2 separate regions of the Homo sapiens genome follow, and region 1 is linked to region 2. A link means that fine-mapping ties the variant in region 2 to the expression of a gene that starts in the linked region. Tissue or cell type: transverse colon. Region 2 holds a variant in brackets; the other region holds the start of a gene. All regions are shown on one strand. Distances are between the middles of the regions.

Region 1 (8,107 bases), 110 kb after region 2:
TCGGCCAGCATGACCTGGCACTGTATACAAAACAGAAAGAGAAATGAATGGGATTATATTTTCATGCAACACATATCCATTAAGCACCTACTGTGAGTTACTCGCTCTGCTCAAAATGTTAGGTTGTAATTAAGTAAAAGACTCATTATTATCTCTGCTTTCAGAAAGTTTAAGTCTGGTGAGAGAGCCAGGCATTACTAATAATTATACAAATACAACCCAAGATTAGAGATATGGGGTGCGTTCAGCATGTTCAGCATGAACACACAAAGAAGGAAGGGCTTTTTAAAGAAATTTCAAGATAATACAAGCCATACTGCCAGAGAGTAAAAAGTGAGCAAAAAAAGTAGATACTCAGAAATGGAAGATTAAATACTACATGTTCTCACTTATAAGTGGGAACCAAATGTGTACATATGGACCTACAGAGTGAAATAATAGACACTGGGGACTCGGAAAGGTGAGAAAGTGGGATGGGGATGAGGGATGAGAAATTACCTAATAAGTACAATGTTCACTGCTCAGGTGATGGTTACACTAAAGCACAGACGTCACCACCACGCAGTATATCCATATAACAAAACTGCATTGTACCCCTGTAAATCTATAAAAATTAAAATTAAAAATAGGCCAGGTGCGGTGTCTCACACCTGTAGTCCCAGCACTTCGGGAGCCCAAGACAGGCGGATCAACAGGCCAGGAGTTCAAGACCACCCTGGCCAACATGGTGAAACCTCATCTCTACTAAAAATACAAAAATTAGCCAGGTGTGGTGGCACATGCCTGTAATCCCAGCTACTCGGGAGGCTGAGGTGGGAGAATCTCTTGAACTTGGGAGGTGGAGGTTGCAGTGAGCCGAGATCACAACACTACACTCGAGCCTGGGTGACAGAGCGAGACTCTGTTTCAAAATAAAGTGAGTACAGTGAATGCAGTAATTATAGACCTCTTCAAATTTTTCAAAGTTCTCAAAACATGTATTCTTATCTATTGCCCTAACTTAATTACCTGCCTCCTCAGTCCAGCAAGCAAGCTCATAGTATACTTACTCTGGCTTCTTAAAGAAGAGGCTACTGAACAAGGGGGAAAGAATTTGAACGCATGCAAGTGTCTCTTTCCTTATGACCCACGGAACAGTCCTATGGGAACACATGCCCACGGAGGGGTGCGTGGGAGTGCAAAGATAACTCCCCACAGACATAACAGCCATTATTACCATTTCTTTTATCTGGCAGTCACTTCTAATAGACGGCCAACCTATCCCTTAGGGAATGGGAGAGGGACTAGAACCAAGAGGAAGAGCTGAGAAATTCTCAAAGATAGAGGAGCTTATGCAAAAAAACAAAACAAAAACAGTAATAAAGTTGACAAAGGAAACCCAAGTGGAGTATAAAAAATAAACATGTTGATAAGCTTAAAAAAACTAACCCACTTATCATTTAATGCAGTGCCCTTCTCACTGGGGGTAGGAGTGGCCAGTGGAGCCAGCGTCACTACTATCTCCCTTAGAGAAGTATGCCCTTCACACACCCTCTGTTAATATTTCCCTCACCTTCTCCCTCTGCTCTTCCAGTCTTGTGTTAAAGAGTTTAAAAAAATAGCTATTAAAGGTCTTTTCCTGCTGACAGGTCTTAAAAAAAAATTCTTAACTCTCCAGGGAAAAGAAGATAGAAATCTTAAAAATTAATAAATAAACCAACAGAAGTTAGTTATTTGAGAAATTACGTAAACCAAATAAACAACCCTTGCCCTTTACTTGGCCCCTGTCACCTGGCCCTCTTCTGAGTCTTAGCCTCAGTCCACTGACACACACATGTCCTGTCTCTTATGGGATGTCTGCTAGAGGCATCTCCTAAAGTCACTCTGACTCATGGTGGGCTTTTCTCCTCTCTTACAACATTTGTCTTCAGTGAAATGCTAGGTCAAGGAGTAGAAACATTGGCCTCCTTGGTTGTGTTCCACAGAATTCCAAGAACATCCCTCAGTCCCATTCCCCACTTTCCCTTGCCAGTACCTGTACTTCGGGGAAAGTTGGGGATTTCACCGTAGTCAAAGATCTGGGCCTGAGTTAATTTATCAGTCAGACCTCCTAATCCAGAACCACAGATTATTGCAACTTGAGGTCGGTGCTTAGTGTGAGACAGAAGCCATTCTGCAGTGTTCTTATAATCTTCATAGGTGTATCTGGGGGAGAAAAAATATCAAGGTGAATTCTGCTCCCATTCCAAGGGCATCACAGACAAATGACCTTCGGTGCAAAAAGGCTGGCAGGTATACTGAGGCAGCAGGGACGGAGAAGCTGGCACAGAGGGAAAGGCCATACTATGCTCTTCCATCTACTCAGCCACCCTTCTTTCTGAATCAAGCCCACTACAAGTCTGATATGAAACTACCTCCATTCTAGAGCCTGGCAAAAGTTAATAAAGCCTGTTTCTACTAACAGGCCCAACTCCAGTGTTGGATCCACTGAACACTGGCAAGCTGCATACTTATCCTTATGACAAAGGTTTAGAGAGGAAGGGGCCAGAGTGTACGGGGAAGTGCAAGGAAATAATCAAATTAGGGAGGGTAAAAGGGCTTGGCCAGGAGGGAGCCCAAGAAGAGTACTCAAAATGGGATTAAGCCCTTCCTGAGGGTGGTGCCCACCTAGTAAAATCCCCCTTATTACCTTACCTGTTCCCCAAAGACATTCAAAATGTAATTAAGACCAACTACTATGAAGGCAGAGATAAACTCAAATTTCCTTTTGAACCCTCATTCCTCCAGTTCCTTCCTCAGCCAAAGACTTAAGGGCTACATTTCTTTTTTGTTTTAACCAATAAAACACAATGGGACCACCCCTGGTAGAGGTCTACGTGCCATTCTTAGCTCCCTGGATCACAAGGGGGTTAATTCCAGACAAAAAACTAGATAAACTGCTGTACAAAAAAGCAGACCCAGTCCACAGTACTGGTTGTCAAAGGTTAAACCAGGACTGACTACACAAATTCTCAGCAGAAGCTTGTTAGAAAAACAGATTCTGGCACTCCAGCCTGGTGACAGAGTGAGACCCTATAAAAAACACACACACACACACACACAAAACCCCCACAAAAAACAGATTCTGAAGCCCATGTAATTTTGATTTTAAAACCAGGTTTAGGGGCTGGGCGCGGTGGCTCATGCCTGTAACCCCAGCACTTTGGGAGGCCGAGGTGGGCGGATCACGAGGTCAGGAGATCGAGACCATCCTGGCTAACATGTTGAAACCCCGTCTCTACTAAAAATACAAAAAAAAAAAAAAAAAAAAAAAAATTAGCCGGGCGTGGTGGCGGGCCCCTGTAGTCCTAGCTACACGGGAGGCTGAGGCAGTAGAATGGTGTGAACCCGGGAGGCAGAGGTTGCAGTGAGCCAAGATCGCTCCACTGAACTCCAGCCTGGGAGACAGAGCGAGACTCCGACTCCAAAATAAATAAATAAAAATAAAATAAAATAAAACCAGGTTTAGGAATTGCTGGTCTGGAGGGAAGCAGAATTCGACCTAGATTCTAGTCCCAATATTGTCTTTTTAGGCATGTAATTTGTGCTTTAAATTATTTTCTCAGGTATAAACAAGGGATGTAAATTGGCCCCATCTATCTTATAGGCTCAATCTGAAAATGAATTGAATACTTGCTAACAACTTCCAAAGACCTATGGCTCTGTTACACAAAGTATTTGAATCTTTCTCCTGCTTTCCACCTGCCTGTGGTCTTCTTCCTGTCCTTCCCCCTCCCTGCCTCCTCCCAGTTTCCTTTCTCTCCACCGAGGATCTTTGCTCTTCAGAAACCTCAGGGCACTTACCCAGAACCCCTACACTAGCAAGAATCAACCCGTGTTACTTTTCTCCCAGTTCCAAGTCCAGTTCTCTCACATCCATCTGGGAAGACCAAACGTTGCTTTCAGAGGTGGCAATGAGGTGTGACAGAGCTGAACACAACTAACCAAGCTTTCACAGGAAATTTTTTACTTGGAAAGCAGAGCCCGGGAAACCAGACATGATTGCACAATACACCAGGCTACCCTCAGGGAAGCAGTTGGATCAGGTAGGTTGGGGGCTGGTCAACGGAGCCACAGGACAATGGAGAGAAGCAATTAAGCTGGTAAAATGTTAATCAAATGGCATCCCCAAAAGGTGCAAAGGAAATGAATGTGTGAAGCTGCCGCCACATGGCATGTCTAGCCACATCTCACAGCACTTCCTCATTGGCTATCAGTCCCCTCAAGAACACCCTGGCTCCCTGGGCATCCAAAAGCAACTGTGATGCCTAATGCAGGTCACTTGGACTGGGATATCCAGGACCCAAGCCGAGAGAAGAGTTTTCAAAGGCGTGGGGTGGGGGAAGTGAGCACAGGACTGTTGCTCAGTTCGGTGACTGATTTCCGTCTCCACTTAGCAGTCACTTCCCACCGAGTTAATCATACTGCCAGTCTGGAAGGAAGGGAGGAGTGCAACTGGCAAAGGAGGTGAGTAATCTTGCCTCTAAAGGAGGAACTCCGAATTTGAGCACCAAAAGTACCTCGCAGCTTTACCCAGACCCTAGCATGGGAATTTATGAAGAGCGCAGGGGGTGAGGAGACCTCCTCCTGGTATGGAGTGAGGGATATATACATATACTCACTCTCCACTTGTTCCCCTAACACACACACGGAGACACACAACGGCTGCTTTTACGGAGTAGCTTAGACCGCACCGACCTGTCCCCTTCCTGCTCCGGTGGCGCCACCCCAGCTCGATTCCCGCGTGCGTCCCTGCCCGCGCTGGCTGCCGCATGACTCTGCCGCCTTGCTCCCGACACTAGGCTCAGTGCCAGGCCTCTCTGCATCCCCTGGGCGCTCGCTCCCTCCGCCAGCTCCCTCTGGGCCCAGTGTGCCAGGTTCCCGGGTCACAGCACCTGCCCCTCCCCAAGGGTCCTGCGGGCCTGGTGCCCTCCTCACCCGTTCTCCATGGTCTCGCAGACGCCTTCTCGATGAGCCTGCTCCGGTGTGCTCCGATCCGCTCCGATCCGATCGGATCCGCTCCGCTATGCTGAACTGAGCAAGGCTGCCGGGTCTGGTTCGCACAGTTGGCTCACTGGTCTAGGCTCTGGCTTATATCCCTTGCCCTGGAGTCCCCAGCCAATGGCAAGCGAGCACGCGGGCCGGCCCTGTCTCCATGGTGACACACCCTAATTCAATCGGCTGAACCTGGGCTGTAAACCTAATCAGAGTTCTTCCCAGCCCTAAACCTTCTGCCCCGGGGCGGGCGGGGGGAGCCGGAGCGCACCCAGCATTTCATCTCGGTACCCATTCCAGTCCGCAGGGCAGGAGTTCCCAGCAAGAAGGCCTATGCGGAAATAGGGCTAGAAGTAGGGAGGAGAGCCCCCAGCCCTCTCCTTGCAACCTCATTCCAGCTGTGTCAATAGCAAACCGTGAGAGATTCAAAAAGGAAAAATTTCATACCTTAGATTGTACAACCCCAGAATAAAAATGAAGCGAGACTGTGTCTGAGTTGCTCCCTGGACAAGGGAAGCTGGGTCGCCCCCGGCAACAGTGCTAACTTGGAGGATACAGGGTTTAGGAGAGCACATCCAGGCCCAGACCGGGAGAAGAAAAAGTTCTCAGGCAAGAATTCCGGGGTCCTAGATGCCGACAGAAAGGATAAGGATGGATTTGGTGGGTAGGGACACAGATAATCCCTTGATCTGCGCAATATTGATCCAAGCAATTCAGGTAACTAGAGGACTCCTCCCACGAAGAAAATTCTGTTATCGGAATACACGGGTACCAGAATATAACATAAATAGCGTGTCTTTGGTAGAATACAACTATTACTTCTGCCCACATTTACAATTTAATTTTTACATTTAATTTACATTTTTACATTAAATTTACATTTAATTTTTAATTTAAAAAATTAAAAAAAAATTTATATATAAAGGCCAGGCGCGGTGGCTCACGCCGGTAATCCCAGCACTTTGGGAGGCCGAGGTGGGTGGATCACCTGAGGTCAGGTGTCGGAGACCAGCCTGGCCAACAAGGCAAAACCCCATCTGTACTAAAAATACAAAAAATTAGCTGGGCGTGGTGGCAGGCGCCTGTAATCCCAGCTACTTGGGAGGCTGAGGCAGGGAGAATGGCTTGAACCCGGGAGGTGGAGGTTGCAGTGACCTGAGATCACACCATTGCACTCCAGCCTGGGCAACAGAGTGAGTAGCTGGTTCCTGAGAACTTACTAGCACTTTGAAAATAACAATGCACACAAATTGAAAAAAAAATTTCGTTCTTAAATAACCACAAACAGTTACTTACGGGATATGTACATCTGTTTGGCACTACTCAACTTCTCACATGCAGGAATCCAATGCTGCCACCCTCATTTTCTGTTCCATGCTGATTTTTACACAGTACTTTTTTTTTTTACTTAATACTTAATTTTTATCAGAGGGACCTTCTAAAACCATCTTTTGTAAAGATATGTTGTCTTTATATATATATATATTTTTGAGACAGGGTTTCACTCTGTAACCCAGGCTGGAGTACAGTAGCACGATCTTGCCTCACTGCAATCTCTGCTGCCTGGGTTTGAGCCATTCTTTTGCCTCAGCCTCCCGAGTAGCTGGGATTACAGGTGCCTGCCACCATGCCTGGCTAATTTTTGTATTTTTAGTAGAGACGGGGTTTTGCCATATTGGCCAAGCTGGCCTTGAACTCCTGACTTCAACTGATCTGCCCACCTCGGCCTCTCAAAGTGCTGAGAGTATAGGCATGAGCTACCACACCTGGCCAGATATATTGTCATCAAAAGGAATGTAGCACAATCTAATGTTCCAACTGTGAATCACCTCAAGTTAATAGGTCACACAGTGTTTAAGAAATATAAAATATTGCTGTGTTTCCTCTGAAAATTAAAAATATTCCACAATACCCTTGTGAGCTTGTACTTTGGCACAGTTTGGGAACCATGGCCCCAGTCACTCCATGCCACCTCATTCCTGAATCTATGTAGTGTAAATGAATGGGCTCTAATAAAACTACCTGTGTATGAATGCCATCTTCACCCCTTATTTACTCGTGTGATTCTAGGCAAGTAAAATTCTTATTATGCTTCAATTTTTTCATCTGTAAAATAGCAATAATCTTAGTATTTTTGCAAGGATTATACAGAATACCTTTTACATGTTTAGGTAAATGCCTGGATATATAATAAGCACACATTAAATGCTGGCTATTATGATTAATCTCCATTGTCTCTTTCTCTTTTGTTCTTTCTAGACTCACCTAACCATAAATTGAATCAAAATAAAAACTAGAGGTATATCCAGCCTATCAATACCAATGAATCCCACACTGTTCAAAACAGAAGGCACTAGCCATGTGTGGCTATTTAAAAGTAATAAAATTAATTAAGATGAAATATAATAAAAATAATTCAGTTACCTAATCATACTAATTACATTGTAACTTCTCGATAGTCACATGTGGTTAGTGGCTACCATATTGCATAGCATAATTACGTTTTTATGCTAGAGCACAGCACTGTTCTTATCTTTTCTAGTCACTGCCACCTTGTATCCACATAAAAGAAACTGGAACTGTGCTTTATTATTTACTTTTAGGGTAAAAGAGTTCCTGTAGCATTCCTATAGACAGGAACCAGACGATCATCAATCTTAGTGTGATTAGAGTTCATTAATGCCTTATTACCTTTTCTTCTATCTTCTCATCACTTCTATCTTCAGAGGGACTCCTTGTCCAGGAACATACTTAGTAACACACTTACCCTCCACCCGCAAGATCAAGGAAACTAAAAAAAAGTGGCAGGAATAGGTTCTAAGTCACTCAGTATTGCCTTGTGGAACGTATTTTATTCCTGCCCTCTCAACTGAGATCTCTTATTCTCTCTAGATCACAAGCTAAATATGCGGTTTTAAAAATATCTATCCCTGGCCAGGCACAGTGCCTCAGACCTGTAATCCCAGCACTTTGGGAAGCCAAGACAGGAGGATTACTTGAGCCCAGGAGTTTGAGACCAGCCTGAGCAACATGGTGAAGTCTCATCTCTACAAAAAATACAAAAATTAGCCAGGTGTGGTGGCATCTGTGGTCC
Region 2 (8,107 bases):
TATAACTGAGATGAACCAATAGGATGTATCCTCAGAGTAATTTCATTCAATAGGGATCAACACCAAATTCAAATGAATTGTGACATTTTAGACATTCGTAGTTTGGGTGTGTGTGTATCTATATCTATCTATCTGTATCTAAATATGTATATACATATATATTATACAGATATATAGGATCAGAGTCTCATTCTGTTGCCCAGGATGGAGTGCAGTTGTGTGATCACAGCTCACTGCAGTCTCAGACTTTTGGGCTCAAGAAATCCTCTCCTCTCAGCCTCCCGAGTGGCTGGGACTATAGGCATATGCCACCACAACTGGCTTTTTGTTGTTGTTGTTGTTGTAGAGATGGATTCTCACTATGTTGCCTAGGCTGGTCTTGAACTTCTGGCCTCAAGTGATCCTCCCGCATTGGCCTCCCAAAGCAATGAGACCACAGGCATGAGTGACTGTGCCCAGCCAGGTATATTTTTTTAAAGGGCACCTCTTAGCAGTTTCAAATAAAACCTAGGCAGCTGTGAATGCTGCCCACTTGAAATATATGTCTCAGAAAGACTGGAAATTTCTGCCCTGCTCTTCTTCCTGTTTATCTTTCTCCTCCTGGTCTTTCTGTTTCCCTATTGTCACCTCACTACTGATGTCAATGGTATAGGATATAGAAGTTTAGGAAACAAAATAAATTCCCTATAAATCCCTCATCCTTTCTGCCTTCAAAATGTATCAGGTCTTTGGTCAAGGCATCCTTGGACACACACCTGGACACATATACTTAATTCTTAATAATCTATCAATAATCCATCAACCCAATTAAGGCTTATGTATTCTTGGTGCTAGGTTTTTCCTCTAGTTTCTCACACAGACATTTTAAATTCAAATATAATTTTTTAAAAGTTCATACATAATAACATCAAATGAGTGGTATAAGAAGGGAATGATAAGAAGTTCAGAGAAGTTGGAAATGGATTTAGTAGACTTAAGCGGTGATGAAACATGTAAAATAAAGAATGAGATCTGAACTGGGCTTTGAAGGATTTCAAGAGGCAGGAAAGAATAGCCATTCAAGAAAGAAGCTAAGTGGGAGAGATGGCATAGGGTATATTAAAAAAAGAGTCACACTGATTGACTAGGGCAGGTTTGTGTAGCAAAATAATGGGAGATAAATCCCGATAGGCAGATTGAGATGAGAGCAAGTGGAGCATTGGCTCCTGGGCTCAGGGGATCAGACTTCCTACTGTGAGCAAAGAGGAATGTTTCAAAAATTCTGAGTGTTGTTGCAAGTTATGTTTTTAGAAAAGTAGTGTATAGAAGAAATTGGAGGGTCAGGAAGGGGTGATTAGGAGGGAAGTAAGGGTAATAATGTAGGAGATCAATGTAGAAGGGATGGTGGCTTTAGAGGTGGAACATAAAAAAGAGGAAAATAGAATCATTCTAAAGAGAGAGAAATAATTATTAACTTAAATAACCTTTCTTTAGGGATTTTCCAGGATTGACCTCAAGTAAAGGATTTTATATACTAGTAAGGTCATGTTATGTTGTTAACAAATAGTGTTGAGAAATTAGTGTGTGTGCAGTAATTACACACACTAAATAAAACTCAGGCAGCTATGAATGCTGCCCACTTGAATTACATGTTTCAGAAAGACTGAGAATTTCTGCTCTGCTCTTCTTCCTGTTTCCTTAACATCTACTCTTTAGCACTATAGTAAACTCTTGATTATTTATACTAACTGGAGGAGTGAAGAATGCAAAATTGTGGATAATTCCATTAAAATTTATAACTGATCCTGGAGTGCAGATTCTTTATTAATCTACAGTTCATTATTTGATTCTATATGAATAAAAGTATAAATAATCAGAAACTGTGTTTCAGGCTCGAGGAATTTTTAGCCTAACAAGAGGGAGAAAAGATTAACATGAATTGACTAACTGGAAAAATGAAAAAGATCATATAAAATGAAGTGCAACTTAATCTGTGCTGTAGGGTTTCAGAAAACAAAAAAGTCATGCTGGGTTTTGGTATAAATAGACAGAAAATATTTCACAGAATAAGAAGCAATGGTACTGCCCAGGTCATTGGGATTCCGACTGCCAAATGGGCACTTTGTTCAGTTCTCCCTGAGCTTCCTTGGTTCCACGTGGTCTCCTGAGTCAATCTCATACAACCCTATCTACCCCTCTGTTGCCCCTCCTTCCCTCAGTTAGACACAACAGCAGAAACTCCCAGGAAACAAACACGATTTCACTTTTAGCTCTGCAACAAAGTGGAATCTTCCTCTACAGGATCAACTTGCCGAAGGAACTGGTAAAGACAGAAATCTTATGAATGAGAATGGGTGGCAAAAGAAATGAGAGATGGGGAAATGGCAATGTGTGTTTTATTTTGTTTTCGAGTGGCTACCATGTGCCAGGTTCTATATGAGGCTATAGGAGATACAGTAATGGTGAGGGAATGTGTTGAGTGAGAATCGTGACCCACCATGGAGATTATACACCCCACCAATGAGATTATAGACCAAGGGAAAAGGATAAGAAACAAATACTTGGTTGTAGATCTTTAAACATGTCACCTTACGTAATTCTCACAATTTTTTTCAGATGGGGAAACTGGAGTTAAATAAGGTTGAATAAATTATAAGCAGAAAAGCAGGAATTTGAACATGAGTCTTCAGACTCCACAGCTGATTGTCTTTCTATTATATCATAGTTCCATTCACAGATATAAAAATTTTAACCTACATGTAGGGGTCCCTACCAGGAATAACTGTCAGGAGGAAGAAAGAACTACCTCTTTAATCTTCTTATTTTATCTTTCATTTATTGTCTTTACTGCAGAAGAGATTACACTACATCTGAGATGGAGACCTTTCCTCTGCTGCTGCTCAGCCTGGGCCTGGTTCTTGCAGAAGCATCAGAAAGCACAATGAAGATAATTAAAGAAGAATTTACAGACGAAGAGATGCAATATGACATGGCAAAAAGTGGCCAAGAAAAACAGACCATTGAGATATTAATGAACCCGATCCTGTTAGTTAAAAATACCAGCCTCAGCATGTCCAAGGATGATATGTCTTCCACATTACTGACATTCAGAAGTTTACATTATAATGACCCCAAGGGAAACAGTTCGGGTAATGACAAAGAGTGTTGCAATGACATGACAGTCTGGAGAAAAGTTTCAGAAGCAAACGGATCGTGCAAGTGGAGCAATAACTTCATCCGCAGCTCCACAGAAGTGATGCGCAGGGTCCACAGGGCCCCCAGCTGCAAGTTTGTACAGAATCCTGGCATAAGCTGCTGTGAGAGCCTAGAACTGGAAAATACAGTGTGCCAGTTCACTACAGGCAAACAATTCCCCAGGTGCCAATACCATAGTGTTACCTCATTAGAGAAGATATTGACAGTGCTGACAGGTCATTCTCTGATGAGCTGGTTAGTTTGTGGCTCTAAGTTGTAAATCCCACAGAGCTTTAGGACTAGGGTCTTACTAAAGAAGGACCTCTTCTTGTTCATTCTTGTTTAAACCTTTCCTTAATATCTACTCTTTAGCACTATAGTGAACTCCTGATTATTTATTCTAACTGGAGGAGTGAAAAATCCAAAATTGTGGATAATTCAATTAAAAGTTATGACTGATACTGGCGTGCAGATTCTTCTCTCTCTATCTCTCTCTCTGTGT[G/C]GGGGGAGGGTGGGGAGGGTGTAAAACAAACTGAATTTCATCCTAGCTCAGCTATAAAGCCAAGAAACAGAATCCACCTAACTAGGCAGAATTAAGGAAACAAGGACTAAAGCCAATATGGACAATGAAAAGCTAATTGTACTGCCAATGATACTATTCAGAAAAATAGTGAATGAGTGTGACATATATTATTATCACTACTCTCTTCAAAGGGTATGTGCTCACACTTGTGTGAATTGATGTATGCACATAACAAAGAGTCTGCCTGTCCTTCAGGAAATGCCAGAGGAAAAAGATTCTTTGGCTGAGCTGATGCTCTCAGTGTCAATAGCTCCAGCCCTATGCAATCTCCATTCTTCCACCCCCATCTCTATTTCACAGGTTGCTGTAAAGAGAAGAAAATTCTTATTGTAATCTTTATTCAAGCCAAGTCTTGATACCCTGGGGCTGTGGGAGAGGAATGGCAAGCCATGGAAGAATAGAGGAGCCAGAAAGATGGGAATAGAAAGTCTGTGCTAAGTACCAGGCAGGACTGGTCTTCAACCTTGATGTCTTATGATACTGTAGTTAATTTTGTTCACTACCAGCTATTTATTTGCAAACGTTCGTGGTTCAACATTCTGCTTAAAGTATGGACAGTTATCTTCTTCATCGATGTGTGGCCATATGTTTCTATTCCTCTCCTTAAATCCTCCCTCCATCCTGAGACCACTCTTTCTTAATGTTCTAATTTTAACTAAATGCATGTAAATGTATGTAAATTATGTCATGGTAACATCTTTCTTGTACATAATTCTCTATATGTCATTTTCCCGAAGCTTTATCATATTTGGTGCAGAATTCTCAATATACTGGAACTGTAAAACATTTACAATCAACCAATTTGCAGCATTACAGCAACATTTTTGTACGTTTGAGCTGGCTTTCCCTTGTCAGTGTAGGCGTTGTTTAAATAATCAATGTGGGTTTGGCCAAACAGGTATGTAATTAGGACTCAGTTTGCACTCGGCAGCCAAAGGACAGAGCAATAAAGCAAAATGCTTGGGTCCCAAAGGTCTCTTCTCTGTAGGAGGAGGACTCAGGACCCAGAAAGGAAGATGTGCTTACCGAGTTCCATCCCAGGGATAGCTCCACATAGTGAGTCTGATGCTACCACCCACTCATCAAAAAGAAGGGTGGACTCCATCCACAGTAGAGTAGTCTAAGCAGTCTCCTCTTGTTCAAATTTAGTTCAGATTTGAATAACTTCTTTCCGACAGTAGATTTCCAGCTCTGGCTGAGAGTCATGTCAGCCTCAGAGCCTAACTATTTAAACTCTGGGAGAGTTTTCTTTAATGTGTAAGAAAAAGTAAATGCTGCCTACTTCAAATTGAGTACTCATATCATCCCTCACCAGAAGAGAAAACAAAGACCCAGAATAGCTAGCTCTTTTTGGGCCAGGAGCATCCTTTAAAGAGGCTTAGTTAAGACCAAACCCTTCCACTTCTCTGAAGGAAGCGGAAGCTCTGGGTTCCAGATACAGTCCAACAAATGTTTCTTGCACATGTTAGAAAACTAACTGAGAAGTGGGCCGGACGCAGTGGCTCACACCTATCCCAACACGTTGGGAGGTCAAGTCAGGTGGATCACTTGAGGCCAGGAGTTTGAGGCCAGCCTGGTCAACATGGTGAAACCCGGTCTCTACTAAAATAAAATCACAAAACTTAGCCAGATGTGGTGGTGCACACCTGTAATCCCAGCTATTCAGGGTGCTGAGGTGGGAGGATCACCTGAACCTGGGAGGCGGAGGTTACAGTGAGCCAAGATCACACTACTGCACACCACTCTGGGTGATAGTGTGAGACTCTGTCTCAAAAAAAAAAAAAAAAAAGAAAAAAGAAAAAAAGAAAGAAAAGAAAAATAACTGAGAAGTGAATGTGTGTTATATCCCTTAGCTGAAAGAAAACATTAGAGGGCATGAGATGGGATGATAAAGGAGATGGACCCAATTTAAAAAGGGCCAAAGAAGGGAGAGTCAGGTAGGAGAAGGAAGCTGAGGATGGACAGAGGATGGAAGGATACAGAGGTTTGTGAAAGACACCAACAGGGGTTGTTTAGCCTAAAAGGAGTACCCTTCTTGTCTCTAACATTCCCTCTGCTTTCCCAAAATAAAGTATATTAAATATCTCTTAAGCAACAATTATGAAGAAACAAGTCCCTGGCCTCAAGTACCCAAGATGGTACTGAAGGAAGGAGTGCCTTTGCCACATCACCGATAAGTCTTCATATGTTCTGTGGCGGGGCTCACCATGCCTTCCAAGAAAGTCATTTCCCCTCATTGAGATTCAATTTTCTTATCTACACAAGGAGGAAACTGGATTAGGTCTGGGTTCTCAGGCATAGATGTGCATCAGGATCACTGTGGCAAAGTTTTCAGGTTAGCCACCCAAATCAACCCACCTTGCTCCCAAGGCAAAGGGATGCAGTGAGGCACAGGATGCCCAGCCAGACTGACTTTCCCAGTCTCTGTGAGCAGAAGTAATTCATGCTGCTTCCAAGTCCAGGTCTTACAACATTGGACTGGCCTCCTCTGTGACTTTTTTCTTCCCAACAGCTAGATCGCCAAAATGGACATGTGTGCCCCAACTTTAATCATGCAGATAATGGCAATGTCCTAGAAATGGCCTGAACGGTAAAATGGAAGGAGGCCACATCCCTGAATAATTGTTAAGCACAGTTATTTTGCTAGCCTGGATTGCTCATTTTGGGACTGTTATATGAGATTAAAATGTTTATATATTTTTACCCACTATACTCTGATATTTCATTCCATGAGCTTAGCCTTACACTAACAAATTCAACAGCTTTTGGAGCTATTATAAATACAAATCCCTGGGCCCCAATCCCAGAAATTTGGCTTCTATCGATCAAAGATAAGACTGTAGCATGTGGGTCTTTTAAAAGTGCATTAGGTTTATTGATGTGCTGCAAAGTTTGAACTCTACTGGATTAGATGAACTAAAGTTCTCTTTTTAATCATAGGACATTCTAGTCCTGATGAAGGAAAAAAGCTTGCTGCGTATATATTCAGAGCTTTTGAAGACAACACTGAGGCAAAATAATTCAGTTTAACTCAAAGAGCTTCCACCTCCTACACAGTCTCCCAGAACTAGCAAGGCAGTCCTTTTATGCTGAAAGTCCTTCACTATAGGGTACATCTGTGAGCAAACGCAAAGTCACTGTAAGAGGAACTCATGTTTCCAAAACAGTGACAAGTTAAAAGAGGTGTCACACACATGAAATGCCTCCTTTTCACTCCAGCAACCAGAGAACTGGCTGATTTGGGATAACATGGCTGTTTTAAATCCTTAATCCTTCAGGTTTCAAAGCATGCTGAACTTATTCGAAATCATATATAGCAATCATTACGAAGATGTTTAATGGTAATAATCATAATAACAATAGAGCTTTTATGATGTGCTAGGCACTAGTTTATTTACTTTTTATTCTCAGAAGAATGCCCAGGAGGCAAATACTATTATTCTTCCCCCTTTAGCGATGAAGAAACAGAAGCACAAAGACTGTAGGTAATGTACAAGGTCACGTGTATAATAGGTGGCCCCCCAGGAGCAAACGAGGATAGCCTGATTCTGTAGGCCACACTTTTCGCCACTCATCTTTATTTGAAGGAAAACAGCAAACTTGCTTATAACCACACAGAAAGATAAAGGTAGAATGCTCCTGAAAAAATTCTACCTCACAGGATTGTTTTGAGGATTAAATGGCAAACCATTATGATTAATTTCATTATGATTAAATAAGGACACTGTGCTAAGTAGATAATTGAAAAAAATTCAATGTATCAAAAGGATTGATATCTTTAATATATAAAGAGGTCATCAGTTTAATAAGAAAAAGATGTAAATGTAATATAAATTAAATCAAGGGGCTATCATAGTTTGCCTACCCAATCCACACAAATAAGATTAAAAATAGAACATAGTGGGGGCATAGGTACAGGAAGGGGATGTTCTCATGCAGTCCTCCCAGGAAAGCAAATTGATGCATTTGCTGTCTTTGAGGAGAGCAATGTGAGCTAAGCCCCGTTCTAGTTTCCAGGCCCTCTGCACATTTGGCTGCTTTGCCTCCTTGTTGACACTCCCCTCTCCTCTTAAACCTTCTTTAGGTAAGAGACTTGCCCCAGTCAACTCTGGCCGAGGTGGTCTTTGAGGAGGCGTCCTCACTGGAGGCTTGAACAGGTCCTGAGGTTTGTCTCACACAGGGTCAAAGGGCACGGTCACAACGGCTGGCCAAGCTTCCGGGCTCTGCTGCTATGCATGTGTTCCCCTCGTCCTCCCCAGCTCAGGCTGTTCCAGGAACCCCATGTTCTCTGTGAGAATGTGGGCTGAGCTGTCTGACCTGTCATGTTAAATGTCCCTTCGGAGATCTCTC

The links. PIP is the estimated chance that this variant, and not a neighbour inherited with it, causes the effect.
Region 1: PNP starts here. The variant in region 2 is fine-mapped to the expression of PNP in transverse colon (GTEx, PIP 0.98).

What each region holds. Positions count from the first base shown.
Region 1 is chr14:20,466,385-20,474,491 of GRCh38, reverse strand. PNP (purine nucleoside phosphorylase) reads right to left here and starts at 5,086. Exons shown (of 6, transcript NM_000270.4): 1 at 4,957-5,086; 2 at 2,015-2,184; 3 at 1-20. The coding sequence starts at 4,967. RefSeq lists enhancers at 4,395-4,524, 4,555-4,624, 4,815-5,319 and a silencer at 5,035-5,154.
Region 2 is chr14:20,579,222-20,587,328 of GRCh38, reverse strand. It overlaps RNASE11 (ribonuclease A family member 11 (inactive)), which reads left to right. Exons shown (of 3, transcript NM_001394190.1): 3 at 2,833-4,437. The coding sequence starts at 2,855. The coding sequence ends at 3,454. Among named protein-coding and RNA genes, the nearest start is that of RNASE11, 4.7 kb to the left of the region's middle. The variant G/C (reference allele first, on the strand shown) is at 3,677.